Regions from separate parts of the Homo sapiens genome. Here all the other regions are reported to be linked to region 1. Evidence: microRNA targets listed by miRTarBase, many of them from high-throughput screens and not tested one by one. Region 1 holds a microRNA gene; each other region holds the end of a gene's coding sequence.

Region 1 (7,308 bases):
GTTCTTTTAATTTTCAAGTAAGAATCATTTGGTGAAAAAAGTAGGTAACCTATTAGTGCCTGTCTATAAAAGAGTGAGGACTTAGATTTCTAAATGCATACTAACAAGTATATTTATAAAGACAGATTTTATTACCTGATTGTATAAAGCAGAAGTCTCCTTTAACAGATTAAAAGAAGAGGTGGGTGGAATATGCTAACAAACAAAGGTCCATGTGTGAATCGGGGGATATTCAGGACTTAACTAGACTTCAGCAGACTCATTTAGGATCTTAAACACTGTCCCAAGTCCAAAATTCACATTTAAGCTGAGAGCAGCTAGGACTTTACTATCTATCTATGGTTTAAGTTGTCTTCCACTCGGCTTGTAAAGCCTAGAGTGTCACTGTTTCTGCCCACAGATAGCTGTCAATCTTGGCCCATAAGGAGATGGAACCATAGGAAATGTTTCATCTCCACTCCCAGCACTTCTTTCCATATAAAAAGATTTCCACTAGCACAGCAGTCCTGACATCTCTGTTCTCAGGAGAAGAGGGAATCATTTAATGTTATTGAGTCCCTTTACCTCCTCATTCTCTTGAGAGCTATGTGCATAGAGAAAGCATACTTTCTGCTCTGCTATTTCAGACCCTACATTTTAGAGTACATTGTCTAATGTTGGAAATAAGGTAGGTAAGTCTCTCTAAATCTGAGATTCAGTGATAGTAAGGCGATCCTCCAAAATCAACTTTAACAATGATAAAATTGATAATTTCCTCTCTATCTATCTTACTCTGTTTTTCAATGACTCAGACTCAGCTGGAGAAGAGAGATGTTCCCTCTCTTGAGCTCACTAAAGACATTCAACAACATGTAATACAATGGGTGGGACATTTGTCTTTTCCAGGCCAAGGAAAAGGAAAACAAACTTAGGTCCCCAAAGACTTAGGATAAAATATCACAGATATAAACTTAGCAAAGTTGAACTCAGCTGTTAGAAAATGGAATTGGATTAGTTTCCTGTGGCTGCTATAACAAATCACCACAAACTCAATGGCTTAAAACCACATAAACTTATCCTCTCACAGTTCTAGGGGACAAAACTCCAAAATCAGTTTCACTAGGCCTACATCCAGGAGTTAGCCAGGCCATGCTCCCTCTGGGAACTCTAAGAGAGAATCTGGCCTTTCCTCTTCCTGCTCATGGGACTGCCAGCACTTCTTGGCTTGTGGCTGCATCACTCCCATCTGCCTCCCTGATCACATTGCCTTCTCCTCGTTGTCAGCTCTCCCTCTGCCTCTCTCTCATAAGGATATACGTGACTGCATCTAGGGCCCATTCTAATAAGCTGTGATAACCTCTTCATCACAATATCCTTAACTTAATCATACCTATAAAGACCTTAAATTTTTAATGTTTTAATTGTTTTTAATTTAAAAATGTCTTTTCTTAGGTTCCTACAGACAGAAACCTTTTTTCTGTATCAGGTAGTATTTACAGATTCTAAGGATTAGGACCTGACGTCCTCGGGGGACTATTTTTCCACATGAGTTCAATAGTCTTGAATAAATATCATTTATATCTCTTTTCTTCTTTTCTCTATGTTCTGAAATTTTACAATTTAAGATGCAAAAATATGTGGTCTAATATCATAGTTTTAGAGAATTAAGAAGGTAAATTCATCCTAGAGTTTGGATCAAACAAATAATATTTAGAAGGAATATATCATAAGGTGATAACTTTGTATGTCGGTATATATGTAAGTGTGGGTGTGTGTAAATCATTAAATTTCCATATATATACCATATAATTTTCTACCTGAAATGTTGTGAGTTAAATCAAAAAATGTAAATTATTCCTACATATCATTAATATTATAAATTCAGGACCATAGTTATTTATATATTTATTTTTAAAATTCTGGTTGAAGCATTTGGTGAAACAGTTCCAGAATTGAGTTTTTTATTCTTTCTATATGTGGAGCATATGGTAAAATTATTCCTATTTCTAATATGAGTTTGGTATTTTATTGTTAAACTCTAGAAAACAACCACCTTTTAGCCAAGAACCTTTGCCCTCTAAGACACACTCAATTGTATTTTACTTTTGCTACCAACATTTAGGGGTTAGTTTACTTTGTGTTATCATATTCCACCAATATTCAAAAGATTTATCACTTGGCAAGAGTTACTGATGACACTCCATGAGTAGGAAACCTCAAATCTTGGTGAAGGGCAGGCACTGAGCTTCTGCTAAGCACTCTCACTAGCTAAGAAACTTGTGCTACATACTACATGTGCCCTGTTTCAGTTAGGACAGGCTATGATATCGTAACAAATAGACCGCCAAATTCAGCTTCTCATGTTTGAGGGAAAAACACATCTATCTCTCTTTTGGACAACAGTCCAGGATGAGGGTTCCAGGTCAGTGGGAGCTCGGCTATATGCAGTGGACCAGGATGGCAAGGGCTCTCCTGAAAGGACAGTAGAGCCCTTGCCATCCTGGTCCACTGCATATAGTCTGCTCCATCTCAGGAAGCCAGAAGGTAGAAGGGGATGCAAAAACACAGCAGTGCAAGAGCTCTAGTATGTGGCCACACAGAATTGCAATGGAGACTGGGAAGTATAGTCTAGCTGTGTGCTCAGGAAGAAGAGGAGAAGGGATTTTGGTAAACAGCTGGCAGTCTTTGCTGCATGCATTATTTCTGCCTCAGCAAAATAAAAGTTGACTATGTAAAACAGAGGTCATGTGTGTAGAGGTCATTGTGTATACCCTTGGGATATACACAAGCATTCAAACCAATGAATAGTGAGAATTTATTCTACCCAAGCAACTATTTATGCCGAATATTCAGAAGGGGAGGGGAGCAGGAAAGAAATGGTTTATTTTCTTTAAATTATTGAAAATATTAGCTTATATCAATTTTCTCAAGTGATGAAAATGCAGGGGTTAAGCCTTTATTTTTTTTTTAAAGTAAATATTAGTATTATGTAGTATATGTTAAGAAGGTTTTTTTCTCTTCATTTCTTAATCTATTGAGGGAAGGACTAGGCAAATGAAGTTAGGCTTCTTTTCTCAGGGGGCCTAACTGTTGGCCCAGGCTGGGTTCCAAGAACTAATACAAGGAATGGTAACTGGTGGGGTTGTCTTTTTGCTGAATGAAGAGAAGAAAAGAAGAATTCCAAGTCTGTTTCCCAGGCACAGGAAGGACCAGGAAGCAAGGAAACTTCCAATTTTCAAGTCCACTGAGCAGAATACAAGAACAGGGTCCAAAACAAAGAGTTCTCCGTTGAGAACCGGCAAGATGGAGCAAGCAAGTCCTGCAGGCAGGCTGGGCCTGGAGAGGCGCCAAGAGGCCACAGCACTCTTGGGAGGAGGTTTTTCTGGACTCTTGAGGAGCTGAGACTTTTATATTCCAACCCTGCCTTTAATTTGAGGTTTGCCTCCTCCCTCCATTTGCAGAAGAGTAATCCGAAGCTAAATCATTCATAACATGAGAATGCTGATCTGTGTCCAGCCCTTGTGAAGGGAAAAGAAAACAAAACTTCACAAACATAATTAGTAGAACTACCTATAAAACCTAATGTTAAAAGAGAAATTAGCTTTCATGGAGAGAAAGTGTGATGGCATGACACAGAAATTAAGTGCACTGAATTTAGATTTGAAAAGAGTTTGATTCAATTCATGTCCCTGCTTCCCAGTAGTCCGTGACCTTGGGCAAGTGACCTATACTCTCTAAATCTTAGTTTCCTTATCTGTAAGATGGGAGATGAAAATAATACCTAATTCATATTTTTTAAGAACTTAATGAAAGAATGTTCAAATGTATCTAATAAGGTATAGGAACTCAACACATGCCAGTTAAACAAATTTCTAATAATTGACTTTCTTATTTCTTCCTTTCTGGGTAAAACAACTGTCCTTTGTATACTTTCATTTTTTGGAGACAGAGTCTCACTCTGTCTTTTTTTGGAGACAGAGACTCACTCTGTCATCCAGGCTGAAGTGCAGTGGTACGATCTCGGCTCACTACAACCTCTGCCTCCCAGTTTAAACAATTCTCCTGCCTCAGCCTCTCGAGTAGCTGGACTAGGACTACAGGCGGGAGCCATCATGCCTGGCTGGTTTTTTTTGTATCTAAGTAGAAATGGGGTTTCACCATGCTGCCCAGGCTGGTCTTGAACTCCTGAGCTCAGGCAATCCACCTGCTTCAGCCTCTCAAAGTGCTAGGATTACAGGCGTGAGCCACTGCACCCGGCCTGCCCCTTGTATACATAAAAAACAATCAATCAAATCTTCCTCCATGACCCCTTAAGCACTATTGAGTAAAGGTGGGATCTTAAGTTGTGACAACTGATATATGTAAAATGTCAATTTAAGAACATCTCCTTTCAGACATGAGTATTTCCCTGCAAACTTAGGTTTATGTCTAAGATCTTAAGGAAATAAATACTATAAAAAGACATAGTTCAAATAATGTATTAATAGAAAAAAGGTCCATAGGAATATCTCAGTGTTTTCTTTTATATGAGATGTATCATATGCTAAGAATATACAATTCTCTAGAATTTATTATTTTTCAAAGTATTCTTTGAGAGGCCATCTCTCCTGTTATTACTTTGTCCAGGTAAGTGGGAATTTCATTCGTGAGGACTCCAAGTCCTATCTATGGAGTCCATTATCACTGGGCATGCCAGTACATCTTCTGGCAAACTGTGACAACAGTCTTCATTGGCAACCGAGAGAACAAAAGAGGATTTTTCTAAAGGTGATGAGGCAGAAAAGGGAAGCAGATGGCCCTGAGGAACACGGAGAAATGTCAAGGGAATTGGCCTCTCTTCTTGGCACTTTGAGGCCTGGCCATGAGGGGTATGTGCCTGTTCATTCCCTCACGAAAAGCGGAGAAGGAAGGATCTAGCCGATTGCACACTAAAGATAACTTGGAAAAGGAACTTGACAGTCCTAGGGAAGAGGAGTTGCAACATAAACTGGAAAGCAGATGAAATCCACTGGTGTGATGAAATTAAAGAGACTTCCCAAATATGCTGGGAAAATCAGTGGAATTTTCAAACCATTGCAAAGTTGTTTCATAAGAATTAGATTAACTAATATTAACTTGTTTCTGGTATGTGTCCAGTACTATGCTAAGTTTGACATGCTTTGCTTCAGTTAATACTCAATCTAGCCCTAAGGGGTAGGCACTAATATTGTCCCCATCATGCAGACCGGAAAATTGAGATTTACAGAGGTTAAGTCTTTAGTCTTAAGTAATTCATGGAATGCAAAGTACAGAGCAAAGATCACTTACCCAGAACTTAGCTAGGAAAAGAAGTGTGTTCATAAATACACTTGTCAGTGATATTTAAATTCTAAGAAAACTTTGCTCACATCTTCTTGAATGAATTGATAACTAGTATAATGTCTGGAAAGGCATGTTTCTCTGAGGTCACATTGCAGCACTTTCAAAAGGGTTTCCCTCAAAGGTGTTTCATCTATTAGTATCAGCAAAAAGATCTCACAGAATGACTAATTTTTAGTAATTATGACCGGCAAGTCTTTGTTGAGTCACTCTCTTCAGAAGTAACACCCTGATTCATCAGATCTGTTTTTAACATTAATTATATTTAACATCTGACATCTTCTTTACCTCTCTCCACATCACTGAATACTACGGAGAAAATAAGGTAAGGCAAACTCAGGTTATGATTAAAATAATAATTGAGCATTAGTGAATTAAATAAAGTAAAAATTGAATGGATTCAACATCCCGTGAAGCAAAACATAAAACATCTTTCATTTCATAAGGTAAAAAAGAACATGAATTTTTCACAATGTCTGATGTTAATGTTGTGCATGGATCACATAATATAAATTAGATGCTTTTATATACAAAAAAATGGTGTTTATGTGATCATCCTAAGAAGTGAGATGAGCAAGGTAGTATCTACTTAAAATATGCTGCCTTTCTATTAAATAACTCATTGTAAAATTGCAAAATGACTTACAATGAACAGCTACAACTTCTAAAATTGTTACTAATGTTTCATTAATAAAGTGTGCCATGGCCTTTCATTAAAGCTGGGTAGTATATGAACCCCTGATGCAGGTATGCAGAAAGATGTCAGCAACACTAGATCAGATGGACTAACTTGGAGAGAAAACTTTTTTTCCCTTGATAGAACAAAAATGTCTGTGGTGACCATTTGTTGTTTTTTGCCAGTCCTGTATCCCCTCCCCTTGTTTTGAGAGTGTCCCTCTGATTTTCTGGGGATCTGCCCATCGCCATTATGAACCATCTTCATGGAACTGTCAAACTATGGATCAAAGTGCAAAGGGGCGAGTTGGCACTTCCTCCCCATCCCTACTCTCACTTGCCAAGACCGATCAGATAGAAGTCCCAGGAATCTGGCCCAAGGACAGAACATGGTTGGAGCTGAGTTTTTTATTTTTTATTTTTATTATATCTTCCCAAAGAGATTGTATCTATTTCTTCACCCAGATCCCCACCACTGCTCTGCATCTATCTCCCTGGAGGTCTGGCTGTGCTTCTATTTCTTAGGTATTGAAAGCTGCTCCACAGTCTTCCACTAAATCCCACTTTTCTTTAAGCTGGCCAGTTTCTGTCTGTTGCTTGCAAAGAAAACGCATTAACTGGTATAGTACAATGTCCTTTCATTTTTACTGAAAATCTTAAATGCTTTTACATCTAAATGAGATCAAACCTTTCCTGAGAATGTTCTTAAAAAAAATAGAACATTTTCAGTGTATGATCAACTCTTCTAGATGAAAACAAAAATTACCAGAATTTAACCTCCATGTCATAATAGATACAAGTAACTACACATAGTAAAAACAAAAGAGTTATCTCTTTTATTCTTCATTTCTTCTAAACTCTTATCATTCTGAGTTATCATCACCGCATGGGGGTGGGGGTGGGGAAATTTAACTCTTTTCTACTTGAAATTTTTCAAAGTCTGTCTTCTAGTATGTTGTTAGAGTCAGTGAGAGGTTGTTGAAAGCTCTCTTTCCAGGTACTAAAAATAGATAAGCTGTATTTCTGGGTTAGGCTAAATGTATGTCCTAAAGATATACTCTAAAGAATGAAAGCATTTTTTTTTTAGACCATTCAGTAAAATTCACTTAGTTTTCAATTATCTGGCCACTTGGAGTTGAAATGGTTAGCAGCTTGAGGTTTGAATTGATTAGATCAATTGAACATAGATCCAGCCATTCACTGAGGAGTGACAGTTACCAGGCCAGGTGTGGGGACTGCCTCTCCTAGAGCCAACATACTAACTCAGCTGAGACTACCCCAGATCTCTTATTATGT
Region 2 (7,308 bases), not on the chromosome of region 1:
TCCTGGGAATCCGCACTACTTGAGTCACGTGCCTGGCCTACCAAATCCTTGCCAAAACTATGTGCCTTATCCCACCTTCAATCTGCCTCCTCATTTTTCAGCTGTTGGATCAGACAATGACATTCCTCTAGATTTGGCGATCAAGCATTCCAGACCTGGGCCAACTGCAAACGGTGCCTCCAAGGAGAAAACGAAGGCACCACCAAATGTAAAAAATGAAGGTCCCTTGAATGTAGTAAAAACAGAGAAAGTTGATAGAAGTACTCAAGATGAACTTTCAACAAAATGTGTGCACTGTGGCATTGTCTTTCTGGATGAAGTGATGTATGCTTTGCATATGAGTTGCCATGGTGACAGTGGACCTTTCCAGTGCAGCATATGCCAGCATCTTTGCACGGACAAATATGACTTCACAACACATATCCAGAGGGGCCTGCATAGGAACAATGCACAAGTGGAAAAAAATGGAAAACCTAAAGAGTAAAACCTTAGCACTTAGCACAATTAAATAGAAATAGGTTTTCTTGATGGGAATTCAATAGCTTGTAATGTCTTATGAAGACCTATTAAAAAAATACTTCATAGAGCCTGCCTTATCCAACATGAAATTCCCTTCTTTTGTTATTCTTTCTTTTGATGAGTAGGTTACCAAGATTAAAAAGTGAGATAAATGGTCAATGAGAAAGAATGGAAGATGGTAAACAATCACTTTTTAAAACCTGTTAAGTCAAAACCATCTTGGCTAATATGTACTGGGGAAATAATCCATAAGAGATATCACCAGACTAGAATTAATATATTTATAAAGAAAGAGACCAAAACTGTCTAGAATTTGAAAGGGTTTACATATTATTATACTAAAGCAGTACTGGACTGGCCATTGGACCATTTGTTCCAAAACCCATAAATTGTTGCCTAAATTTATAATGATCATGAAACCCTAGGCAGAGGAGGAGAAATTGAAGGTCCAGGGCAATGAAAGAAAAATGGCGCCCTCTCAATTTAGTCTTCTCTCATTGGCCATGTTTCAGATTTTGACCTAGAAATGCGAGCTGTGGTTAGGCTTGGTTAGAGTGCAGCAAGCAACATGACAGATGGTGGCACGCTGTTTTTACCCAGCCCTGCCTGTACATACACATGCACACCCTCTCTGATATTTTTGTCCTTTAGATGTTCAAATACTCAGTAGTCCTTTTGTTTGCGGTTTAGATTCATTTTGTCCACACATGTACCCATTTTAAAAAACAATGTCCTCGATGCTTCTGTAGTGATTTCATTTTAGCCAGGTATTTCTTTCTTGTGTGTGATGAACCAGTATGGATTTGCTTTTCTAAGCCTCCTGTTGGTTACTAATCTCACTTGGCACATTATAACTAAAGGAATCCCCTCAATTCAAAAGCATAGATGGATACAAATGTCAGACCGTGGGTTTAATTTGTTTAGAACACATGGCATTTCTTCACAAGGTAACCTGCTGTATTTATTTATTTTCTTTTGGTTAAATATAATTTCCAAACTTTGTGGTCAGGCAGCGTCTAAGGTTACGTTACCACAGACTGACAGTTGGTATATGTACCAGCCAATCCCTTCATTAAATGTATACAGATTTAGTTAAGTAGCATTAAATAGGATTCTTAGAAGTATGTCCTCATAGAACTTTTAATACTTAAGGCTTTGTAAAAACTATCCATGAAGGGAAAGCTCCTCAGCATAACTGCTCAGGGAAATAGGGCTAAATAACTGAACATTAAATAATTGGTTAAAGGTGCTGTTAGTCGAGCCTCAATGCTTGCTACAAGGATGTATGTACAAGGACTGACTTTAATAATTTGCATTATATTGTCCCAACCAGTAGTTTATTTTTTGCCACGGAGATGTAGAAGATATTACAAGCTACTGGATGCACTGTCAGATTAACTTATTTCATTAAAGAAGTTGGGAGAACAAATAGGAAAAAAAAAACTTATTTTTCTAGTAAATATTAATGTATTACATTTCAAATAATGGTGCCTGACATATTGAATAATTATTTTCTACAGTGTACGTATGCAACAAAGATATTCCATCATGCATTAGAGTCAGTTCTGGCTCTGCCTAGCTGTTTACATTTGCAAATGTAGCAAACAAGGTAATGAAGCAACTATTTCTATTGCAGTAGATATCCTTTTGTGTGTGTGTGTGTGCATTAAAGTTGTAAACGGTAACATGAAACAAATGAAAGTTCTTGCTATAATGGTATGGAAAACAAGAAGGAAATGAAAATATTTTTATGCCTACTTAGGAAAAAAAGGGTAGCACTTATTCATTCCAAGTACTTTTTTTTTTTTAATTTTTAAGCTCTTAACTCACATTGTTATGCTTAAGATGATAAACATATATCCTCTTTTTATTGCTTTGTCTATGTTTCATATGAAACATTTCAGAAATTATTTTGATAAGTGTTGCTGGAATCTGCAACGCTGATTTTTTTTTGCATTCTGTAGTCGCATTTGCACTCCATTTTTACATTAATTCGCAGTTGCTTTGTATCATTGTTTTGTTTGGGTTTTGTTTCTTTTTCACAGTGCCGGGTCTTCGTTTCTTAAAGTTGGATGGCAGGTAGAGTTCAACCAGTTCGTGACTGTTGTAGCGAATGAAGTTAAAAAAATGTCTTTCTGATGTTGTGTTGTCATTTTCATTTTTGCATTTTTTTGTTTGCATATTAAAAAAAGAGAAAAGAGAAAGCAAGAGACAGAAATCAGGACTAAGTCCTCTGCTTCAGTTTCATTGTTAACGGGCCTTATTCTGATCTCACCTGTCGCGTAGCTCTAATATTCACATAAACTGAAATAAAGAAGTGGAATGAGGAGCTTTGACATTCAAATTATGTGATGTAATTTATCTTCCTTAGGAATTTTGATGGATGCATCTCAAAATGTATAGCCAGACTTGAGAGGTGACAATTAAAGATCTAAAAAAGAGAGGAGATTCCCCCAAACAACAATATTTAATTTTCTTAGTAAAAAGAATAACAGAATGCATCGTGGCAATCCTTAAGCAACATTATCTATGTGGACTGCTTAAATCAGCAAAACACCAGAAGTTTGGTTAACTTGGGCAATATGACAAGTATTACTTTTTGGGCAAAACTACTCATTAAGCAATTTCTCTAGTGTGTCGGACACAAATAGGTTCTTTATTTTTGGCATGTATGCCTTTTTATTTTCATTCAATTTTTTTTTTTTCTCAGACAGACATAGTAGTAACGACTAGCATTGGAAAATACATATCACTATTCTTGGAATATTTATGGTCAGTCTACTTTTTAGTAGAATATTTTTGGATAGCGTTGACACGATAGATCTTATTCCATACTTCTTTATTATTGATAATTTTATTTTCATTTTTTGCTTTCATTATTATACATATTTTGGTGGAGAAGAGGTTGGGCTTTTTTGAAAGAGACAAAAATTTATTATAACACTAAACACTCCTTTTTTGACATATTAAAGCCTTTATTCCATCTCTCAAGATATATTATAAAATTTATTTTTTTAATTTAAGATTTCTGAATTATTTTATCTTAAATTGTGATTTTAAACGAGCTATTATGGTACGGAACTTTTTTTAATGAGGAATTTCATGATGATTTAGGAATTTTCTCTCTTGGAAAAGGCTTCCCCTGTGATGAAAATGATGTGCCAGCTAAAATTGTGTGCCATTTAAAAACTGAAAATATTTTAAAATTATTTGTCTATATTCTAAATTGAGCTTTGGATCAAACTTTAGGCCAGGACCAGCTCATGCGTTCTCATTCTTCCTTTTCTCACTCTTTCTCTCATCACTCACCTCTGTATTCATTCTGTTGTTTGGGATAGAAAAATCATAAAGAGCCAACCCATCTCAGAACGTTGTGGATTGAGAGAGACACTACATGACTCCAAGTATATGAGAAAAGGACAGAGCTCTAATTGATAACTCTGTAGTTCAAAAGGAAAAGAGTATGCCCAATTCTCTCTACATGACATATTGAGATTTTTTTTAATCAACTTTTAAGATAGTGATGTTCTGTTCTAAACTGTTCTGTTTTAGTGAAGGTAGATTTTTATAAAACAAGCATGGGGATTCTTTTCTAAGGTAATATTAATGAGAAGGGAAAAAAGTATCTTTAACAGCTCTTTGTTGAAGCCTGTGGTAGCACATTATGTTTATAATTGCACATGTGCACATAATCTATTATGATCCAATGCAAATACAGCTCCAAAAATATTAAATGTATATATATTTTAAAATGCCTGAGGAAATACATTTTTCTTAATAAACTGAAGAGTCTCAGTATGGCTATTAAAATAATTATTAGCCTCCTGTTGTGTGGCTGCAAAACATCACAAAGTGACCGGTCTTGAGACCTGTGAACTGCTGCCCTGTTTAGTAAATAAAATTAATGCATTTCTAGAGGGGGAATATCTGCCATCCAGTGGTGGAAATGTGGAGTAAAGAAGCTGGTGGTCTGCTTCTGTGCTGTATGCCAGCCTTTTGCCTTAAGTTGAGAGGAGGTCAACTTTAGCTACTGTCTTTGGTTTGAGAGCCATGGCAAAAAAAAAAAAAGAAAAAAAGATCAAGTCGTCTTTGGTGAGCCAGTAAGGTGAAAGCTTGCTGACTGTCCAAGGCACAAGAGAAAATTGAGGAATTGAAATGCAACCTGAGTATCAAACTAAATATTCTAATCAAAGGTAGGTACTGTTAGGTGGAATTCTATCAGCAGGCAACTGCAAATGAGAAGAAGATAGAAGGACGCCCGTCGGGACTTTGGAGGGCATTGTTATTTTCCCAAAGAAAGACGGCCAAGGGCAGAGGCATGGATTCTTTGCAGAGCACTTCCTTTTGGTTTTTCAGTACTGTTTCATAGACAGTGGGCTCACATGTTCCTGATAGTGCTGCAGTTGCTTAGAAAGCATCCCAGTTAATTGCAGTAATTAGAACTTCTGGAATATGCTAGGGCAGAAGTATGTCAAGTATGTCACATGAAGAAAATGTGAAATTCAAGAGTAATCCACACGTGAGAAACTAGACAATGTACATTCATGTGTTCTCTTGAAAGGAAAGGGAGAGCTGTAAGCTTCACTCTGTCCTACACCGGAGAAAAGCAGGAATAACTTTACCGTGGAAATAATGTTTAGCTTTTATCAGAGAAAATTGTCCTTCTAGAGCATAGAGTCCCAAAACTCAATTCTGGTTTTCCCCTGTTTTTTTTTTTTTTTTTTTTCCCAACATATAAACTGCAGCATATCACTTTTTCTTTTTGTGCCTCAGGTTCCTCAGCTGTAAAATTGAAAAATATATGTATTAATAATATTATTAATAATAATAATGGTAATGTAGTACTTGTTTGTAAAGCACTTTGAGATCCTTGGTTGAAAGGCACCATAGGAGTGCCAAGTATTATTATGTGGCCAAGGGGGTTATTTAAACTGTCAGTTCCCAAAGGCCAGGAAAGGTTGGGGTCATTTTTCTTAAAGACGAGCTGTAAATATCAACTAGGCAGCCAATAGTGTTGACTATGAAGATGCAAAACTATTACTAGGCTGATAAAATCATAGTTTCTTAATGGCTACCAATAAGGCAAATATCACAATAATAAACGCCAAATTCCTTAGGGCGGACTATTTGACAACCACATGGAAAACTTTGGGGGAGGCATGAGGGGGGAACATCTCAAAATGCCAATGTAAAATTTAACTTACAGCAATATTCACCAGCAGAAAATGTCTTTCATATGGAATGATTTCATGTTGCTAAGAAAAAGAATTCAATTTGTAGTCCTGATTTGAATACTAGAATGTTGGCTATAATAGTTCTGTTCTTACAACACATGAAATTTTTTCGTTTTATTTTATTTTGTTTTCATAGTGCATGTTCATTTCTACTCACAAACATGTTCTTGGTGTATTTCTTATGCAAACAATCTTCAGGCAGCAAAGATGTCTGTTACATCTAAACTTGAATAATAAAGTTTTACCACCAGTTACACATAACGGCGTTGGTATGGTTTATATGGATTCACTTTCATCCTTCTAGCAATAGGAAATACAGATCATTGTAATATATATATATATATATATATATATATATATATATATATATATATATATATATACAGGCTCTGCTGAATTGAAATGGTGAAATCAAATCACCATTCTAAAAAATTATTACTTATATTGATAAAGCCTGGACTCTCTCAACTTGTTGTGCTTTGATTTTTTTTCTTAAACAAACACTCTCTCACTGATATATTTTGTGTAAAAAGATATATACTACTTTCTCCAGAGAGATAACATAAAAATGTGTTTATTTCAAAAACATTCAGTTGAGTATCAAATATTGAGTGTCGAGTATTGGGTAATGATTATGTTACGATGTGTAAAAACTCCTGCTTATGAAGTTTAACTTTGAATTCGGTATACTCATGTGAACATGATGCAATTCCTAATCAATCATCTCAAAAAGTTTAAATTAATATATCAAATATCTTATTTGTTTGGTTAAAATCAAATTAATCAGGGCAAGTTCCCTGAAAGATGACTTTGAAAGAGAAATGAGGCAGAACAGATCCAGATAGGAAAGGACGTTGGCAAGACTCACCTGCATGTTTTTAACCAGAAGGAAAAATACAAAAAGACAGAACATAAAGTATATAAATAATTGATTGCTTCAGAAGATTTGCTTGGAGAGTTTAAAATAATTAGTATCTCCCCTCATTATACAATCTTCATTTCTCATTTTTGGGAGCCCAAATTAAGGAACAAATCCTTCTAATTATTATTTTTTTTTCTTTTTTCCCTTTTTCTTTCCATGTTTTGAAAATAGCAGAGAGTCTTTGAGGGGCTTTCATAATGGCAATGCCCTTGCTTTGCAGCTGGAGGCAATGTTCTCTAGATAAGAGTGTAATAATAACATTTAATGTGATATACTTCCTTAAGTAGAACTTGATTCTTGTGTCAAGGACCACCCTTCAGATAAAGAATACACATGATCTCACCCAGGACTGTCAGAACCCCATTAGAGGAGGAATATGTAGCCATCAGCTATTTACCCTTGTTTGCGGGGAGAGAAGTGAGTGAGTCATCATTGTCACTCTGCTCTCACCTCTGGGTCTTCCATCTCTGTGTGGACGGAGCAGGGGTCCAGAAAAGGAACATACAAGGACACAAAGGAATAGGCAAGTAGCCTCCATGGATACAGCCAGCTGGGTAGAGACTTTGGGAACTGGAGAGCTCATTCCACACGTATAAAGGTAGTCTTTCTTCAGCCCTAAGCATTTGTGAAGGG
Region 3 (7,000 bases), not on the chromosome of region 1:
GACGCTGTTCCTTAAGTGTGGCCCAGGAATGATGTACATACCAGGGAAAGAAAGGACAGCAGTCACCTCCGACAATGCTCCGTTCTATGGAATATTGATTAACTGCATTTTGGCTGGAGACACCCAAGTGAAGCAATCTTGTATTTTTAATATTTAAAGGCAGATGTACGCTTTAAATTGGTCTCCATTTCTTCTTAGAATGTTGATATATGGATAAGCATAACTAAACTTGTCAATTTAGAGTTTATTTTTCTATGGATACTATTAAATGTCTCAAATTGAAATTTTAGCAGTCTGGAATTCAAGCTTTTGAGGGAAAGAAGGATTCATTTTGTATACTAAAGAAAAAAACAGCATTGCCCAATAATGTGTTAACTTCTCAATCTGGAAAGTGTAGTGAGAGCTACATAATCAATAGCTACGTAATCAACTTCAGCAAGTTCCTAAGCTGTGGCCCTGGATCCCTTCACTCCATACTCTTCAGGGAGGTGTCAAAGGTGGTCAAGCTTGGGAGGCTGAGGCAGGAGAATCACTTGAACCTGGGAGGTGGAGGTTGCAGTGAGCCAAGATCATGCCACTGCACCCCAGCCTGGGTGACATAGAGAGACTCTGTCTCAAAAAAAAAAAAAAAAAAAAAAGATGGTCAAGCACTTGCCATCTAATGAAGCACCCAGGTTTGTCTATGGCTGTCTGAAGATAAGGCAGAACAGAGAGAAAAATCTAGTTTAATAAAGCAATGAAAGCCCAAGCCACCAAAAGCACCAAAAGAGATTTAAGATTTCTGTTGGGACAAGGTGAATTTTGACATATGCACAAGGACCCATGGCCAGCAAGTTCAGAATTTCTGTAATCAGAAAATGAGACCTCAGCTGGTGGGAACAGACTTTTAAAGAGTAGTAACGGACCTTAAGACACAAAACAGGAATTGCATGAAAAGGGCTCAGAGTTGAAGAAATATAAAGAGTACAGTGTTCAGTAACTTTAATACAGAAAATCTATTTGATATTTATTAAACTTAGTTTCTCCAACTATGGTTTGGCATTGTACAAAGCATCTTAATGACACAGTAGAGTTAAAAAGATCTTTACAAATTGAAATGTGATACCCTTGTCTCCAAATATTTTAATTGCCATAAATTTGTTTAAAAATACACATTAAACGCATGTTTGACACTCTAAACTTTCTATACTCTCAATACCACAAAATACATATAATATACTATACAGATGTGGAAAAATCTAGTTAGTATATAATACTTTGCTCACCATTAACAGCTTTATCGTGTGAAATGCACATACTGACTTAGAAATCCTAGCTTTTGAGCCCCAAAGTACCTCTGAAATTGTAATGTATTGCAACAAATAAAAATCACAGTATATAATTGAAATTCTGGTTGAAAATGTCAGATGCCTAAATATTTTGGATAAAAGAAATGTAAAACAAAGATTTGGTTCATGTACAAAACAAAGGCATCCTTATCAGTCACTAACAGTACCTTTCTGCAAAATCAACAGGCTTTTAATTTATCAGTGACATTATCTCCCCTCCAAAACCCTCCCCAAATATCAAACAATTATATACCAAATAATTTTAATTTCAAATAAAAGGATTTTCAATAAATATATAAGCATTTCCATCCTCCATATACAAAATTTCTTAAAACCATTCAAAACGGAGGCTAGATAGAAATTTTCATAACTGTGCTTACCAACCCCACAACTGGCCCTTAAAGGTGGTGCCTTTTCAGGCAATGTCAACTGGCCAGTTCTGTTGGTGAGCCCCCTACCCCCACCCCACCCATCCCAGTACTGTTGAATGCTCATGTTAATGATTTGCCAGGTGTGTGCATAAAGTTGTAAAATGGGGACACTTCTGGAACACCAACAACAAACTCAACAATATGGATGATCATGGCATTGATTTGAAAGGCAGCATTTCCAAATTGATATTTTCCAGAGAGGAACATAGCAGGTAGAAAATTCCAATGGTTAAAAGCTGAAAAGAAGTCCCACATGGAAGCAGTAAGAGGTCAAAACTGAGTATCACTAGAGTTTCTGGGTGGGAGCTTTTTTATTTTTAAGAATGGCAAGTTATGTTTAGCTGAGTAACAGTGGCAAGGAGAGGTCAATGCTGACATTCCTGAAAGTCAACTTCTTTACATGATGACTACTTAGGCTGCTATTTTAGGATACTTAAAGATCTCTAAGACTTGGATTAGACTTAACTTGAATACCTTATTCTGTGACCAAATTACATGAAAAGAAGATACATAGTTATTATTTCCATTCCCTTTTCTGGAGACAGCAAGTTCTTTCTAATTAACCATAGGGTTCATGTGAATAGGAGCTTTGTAAGACCAGCATCCACTTTACAGACTATTAATAATTTACTTTTTGTCACTTGCTAACTTGGTTTTGGGGTCTAGAGGTCTAAAGTGAATTTCTCCATTAGCGAGTATCTGAAAGACATGCTCACAAACATGAAAAATTTGGCCTCTTCTCACTACATATTCCAAGGTATTCAATAATTATCTCTTCTATTAGTTTTACTGAATAGCAACCTTAGATGTACAGTATTATTACTGGAAAAAAAGCCTGCCTCTTCAATACATTAATGCATAAAGCTGAAATGAAATTTATGTTCCATGTATTAGGGGATATACAGGTATGATAGGTGTCTATATGGGTTTGAAATGCTCTGTCTCCCCAAGTTACTTAGGTTTTTTAAAAAACATCATCACAAGCTGCCTAACAGTCATCCCCAGTAGATGTTCCTGGGACCCAGACACAAACTCCTATAAATCAAAATATATAATGAGGCCATACTGTTCAATTAGCAACTGGAAAATTAAAATCTTTCCCACCCTGTAAGAGCCCTACGACACTACAGAAGGGCTCAAATACATTTTAAAAGTTAATTTACTACAAATCATAGTAATTAAGCTTTAACAATCTAAAGGAATACACATTGCACCCTTGAACATTAATATTCAAGGTGTCAACAAGAAAGTGTCTTAGATCAATTTAATAAATAATGTGGAAATAGTTGCACTAAGCTAAAATACTAAACACACACATATTTGACAAACTAATTTCATGTTTTCATACATACATACATATATATAAAGTGTGTATGTGTACAGAATTTTAAGATCCAAAGTTGCATACCCTTACACCTAGAAGAGTGCACAGTGTACTCCTCCTCTATATAACTAGGCATCACTGACTGGAACAATCACTGGCTGCTCTGAAACTCCAGAGTACTGGCCTCTAGAGCCAGAACTTTCATTTATAACAAGTGCCTTTTGTAGGCTCTTGCTTCAGAATGCAAGCTCATTCATGAAGAAATGTACCAACGTTTCTGTCATTAAATACAAAATTATGCTGTCTGATCTGTCTGATTAAACCTTTAATGAAAAGAAACGAACAACAATTTTTTAAAAACTAGTGAATCTAATAAAGCCAAGTGTGTCATTCAAAGTGCAGCCCAAGTGCCTATGAATCCGCCACTGCCAGAGCTCCCAGAAACACAGGTGTCTGTGGGCTCACGCACACTGCTCTCAATTGTTTTTACACTAGAGAATTAAATAAATGGTGGTCAACCTTCTCCACTCTTCGGCAGCTGTAGCTGTAAGTTTATCTGAAGTACTCACTGCATATAAAGTCACTTCTTGGCTACTTGCCCAGAAAAAGGTGGCACTGAGGCAAGGAATGGGCTGGATGCTCTCTAGCCAGACTGGAGCCTGGGCTGAGCTGTGGAAACTCCCCTGAAGGGGAATGCTTCCCACAGCCCAGCCCAGTCTGGCCCAGGCAAGACTACTGTGACAACTGCAACCACTGCAATTGGTTCGTTGGTTGCTTGTAAAGAGTCTAATGGTGTATAGGCTGCTGCCTCCTGGCATACAAGTGTAGTCATAAAGAGCAGTCAACAGAGTAACTGTTTAAAATAGTTGTTGTTTCTATAATTAACCATATACTAAGTACAAGTCTCAGACTAAGTTTTTAGCCACTTGTCAAATTCAGTTTTAAATGCTTAGAAAACACTGAGGACACCTATTGAGGAGGGAGGGGGGAAGGTCACCTGTAAAGGAGTCCAAAGTATGTGCTGGAGCAGATGATGACAAAGACAGAACATCTAAGAAGATAGACATGGAGGAAAGGGAGTAGTATTTCCACACACTATGACATTGAAAATTCAATCATTTATGATAGGATTTTGATCCATTGCCCATTACTACCTTGTGGGAAAAATCCTCCACAATGAAAAGGTTGAAAAATTCATTCTCCAAAAATTGACACAGTTTTAAAGAGAAAATATTAGAGCAGCACCATAAACCATGCAGGAAACTCTGCTTTAACAAAATATCAGTGTGACCCCAAAAATGCTCCTGCTGCCTTTCAGGACATACAAGAGACTAGAACACAAGAACTCAGAGGTATCCCACTGGCTGTTGTTGCTGAAAGTCTGAAAGCCCAGAGGATACTTTTTCCATTTCTAAGACATCACTGCAAATTAAGGAATCCAAGTCAGAAAAATCAGAGAAGGACAAGACATAACATGTATTTGATTAACAACCATTATTTCTTACTAAATAACTATCATGATCATTGAGAAGTTGTCCTCTTATGGAAAACTGTTCCTAGAACACACTAAGATTAAGTTAGAAAGATATCAGAGGCAATTTCTCCAAGAGAAACAGGTTAAATTCAACATAATTTGTACATCTCAATCTTCAATGACATCTAAAAACAATCTGAGGTACAAAACAGTTAAGAAGCTCTATAAATATGAGGCCACAGGGACAATGAAAGTTCACTAACTTCAGAAATAAGTGTAAAAAAGTCTCAAACACAAAGGATTCACTGCACTACTGGACTTGAAACTTTTCTATCCCTTCTTTCCCCTTTCCTATTTCAAGCCTTAGCAATCATCTACAAATAGTAGGATAATCTTTTTTTCTGACTGAATGGATTCATTTTTGGAATGGGGAGAGGGACAAACTATTTTTCAAAGCAGCATTACCCAACTGGTTAGACTAAGTCATGTACCAAAGCAATAGCTTTTCTGAAAGAACTAATCTTTATATGACCCTAAAGAAAGATTTAAAATGAAAGAATTGAACATTATTATTGTAGAAGACCAATCATGTATGGACGATCTGGTCCTAGTGTAAAACTTCATTTGTAAACAATCCATAGAGTCTTCATTTAAAGGTAAGATTTAAGGCACACCAAACATGATAGGGGCATGAAAAATAAAGTATAGAGGGTACATTTCTTATCTTAGACTTCTATATGCACCTTGTAGCAAAAGGTACTTTGATATACAACTCTTACAGAGCCAGCTTCTTTAAGCTCTACCCCTGGCTCCACTCCCTGTCCCAAGAGCTCACACTGAATCAAGTTAGGTACACTTTTCTAGTGTGAAATTTTCTGATTCCATCAGAAACATACATCATTGAAGAGGGCCTTCATAATGCAAAAGGAGTAAACAGAAGATAGGTTTAAAAAGGAGAAATTCATCATCTCTACATCAGGCATTAGAACTGTAAGCTGTATAGCAAAAGCACACACCGAAGCTCCAGCCTATTTCTGTATCAGTCATTGCATGCTCATATCAGAGCATCACAATCCAGTATGAGGGGGAAAAATCTGAAAAATAACTCTAACTATCAAAGATAATCAATTAAAGACACACAGGCGGCAATCCTCAGGAGTTGGATCATCCTTTTTTCCACAGTAACTTATTCTGTTTCGATTAAGTGTCAAATGATTAGCAACAAAAAATAACATATGGTTTTAATAAAATCCGTAACGTTCAGGATTGTCCTTTTATGAAACCCTTCAACATGAAATGCTTCTTCTAGAAAGTTTGTCCTCCCTCTTTTGTAATGCATTAAATGCAAGCTATAGTCACTGTGTGATTGCTGTAGTGTTATTAACACACATTCACAGTTTTTGAAATAATGCATACCAAATCAGACACATTTCATAGTACATACATGTAGAATGCCATTTTCTCATATTTAAGTGATTTTTTCATGTGTAGAAGAATATCCTTAATACTAACTGTAAATTCCACAATAATAAAATTGGAGTTAAGATTTCAAATATCAGGTCAGGTAGCAGGTGTAGAAAGAATATGTCCTTATTTTAGACGAACCAATTCTTACTCTTAGAACAGCTACCACAAAAAGATATTAGGTAATAAAGCTCCCAAGGTATATAAATAAAAATGTCTACATTAAATTTATGCTAAATATTCAACAGAGTAAATTTATAGGCAGAAATAACTAAGTCTTAAACTAGCCCCAATCTGGGAACTTAAAAAAATTAAAATAAATAAAATTTCAATTCATTAGTTATGAATTGCAACTGGAATTTCAATCTTATCATAGCTCACGGAAACCATCTTATCAATGTGCTGCAGATTTAAAAGCATTTAAATAATCTTTCACATTGGAAATATTAAAGGGCCAACTGACATGATCGCTTTGGATTATCAAAAACAACAACACATGAACCAACGAGGAGAAAACTATTCCTCATTCTTAGTGTCGACTAGGTGGTATGTTATGGCAGTTTTCCTTCGTGATGTGACACAGTGTTGTGGAGAAAATCAGAGGCAACGAGAATGTGTTCAGTTCAAGATATCAACTTGGCATCCTGGCGAAGCCAGTGCAGTCCCTGCCGGGTATAACGAACTAGATCTGTCATGATGCTTGCATTAAAGATGAGAGGGCCCATTACTTTATCCAGTTCAGCAAAGAATTCTAGAAAACCAAAAACATTCATTAAATGATATATACTCTTTTGAATCACTGCTTTAAAACTATGAGTAGAGATTATAAAACAGCATTCATAAACTCAAAAAATACCTCCTCCTACACTAAAATGCTTACTGTCCATGTTTTAGAGCAAATCATTCCATAGTCTCTCAAGTTACATTTGTTCCCTAAGTCATGCAACATTTTAAACAGAATGTATGGTCAGAAATTAAG

What was found. The annotated mature microRNA hsa-miR-4776-3p reads CUUGCCAUCCUGGUCCACUGCAU and lies in region 1 at 2,422-2,444, opposite strand. An mRNA with a match to its seed (bases 2 to 7 or 8) in the 3' UTR can be bound and repressed. Matches are read on the target gene's strand: a 7mer-m8 pairs with bases 2 to 8, a 7mer-A1 pairs with bases 2 to 7 and ends in A, and an 8mer does both.
Region 2: miRTarBase lists TRPS1 as a target of hsa-miR-4776-3p. Seed matches in the 3' UTR shown: 8mer at 4,570-4,577.
Region 3: the mRNA of AFF4 is a reported target of hsa-miR-4776-3p. Seed matches in the 3' UTR shown: 7mer-A1 at 1,832-1,838 and 7mer-m8 at 1,127-1,133.

The regions. Positions count from the first base shown.
Region 1 is chr2:212,923,840-212,931,147 of GRCh38, forward strand. It overlaps MIR4776-2 (microRNA 4776-2), which reads right to left and starts at 2,497; the gene lies at 2,418-2,497. It overlaps MIR4776-1 (microRNA 4776-1), which reads left to right and starts at 2,418; the gene lies at 2,418-2,497. RefSeq lists an enhancer at 4,929-6,128.
Region 2 is chr8:115,407,199-115,414,506 of GRCh38, reverse strand. It overlaps TRPS1 (transcriptional repressor GATA binding 1), which reads left to right. Exons shown (of 7, transcript NM_014112.5): 7 at 1-6,011. The coding sequence ends at 484. Among named protein-coding and RNA genes, the nearest start is that of TRPS1-AS1, 99 kb to the left of the region's middle.
Region 3 is chr5:132,874,415-132,881,414 of GRCh38, forward strand. AFF4 (ALF transcription elongation factor 4) reads right to left here. Exons shown (of 21, transcript NM_014423.4): 21 at 981-6,772. The coding sequence ends at 6,645. It overlaps LEAP2 (liver enriched antimicrobial peptide 2), which reads left to right. Exons shown (of 3, transcript NM_052971.3): 3 at 1-632. The coding sequence ends at 32. Among named protein-coding and RNA genes, the nearest start is that of LEAP2, 4.2 kb to the left of the region's middle.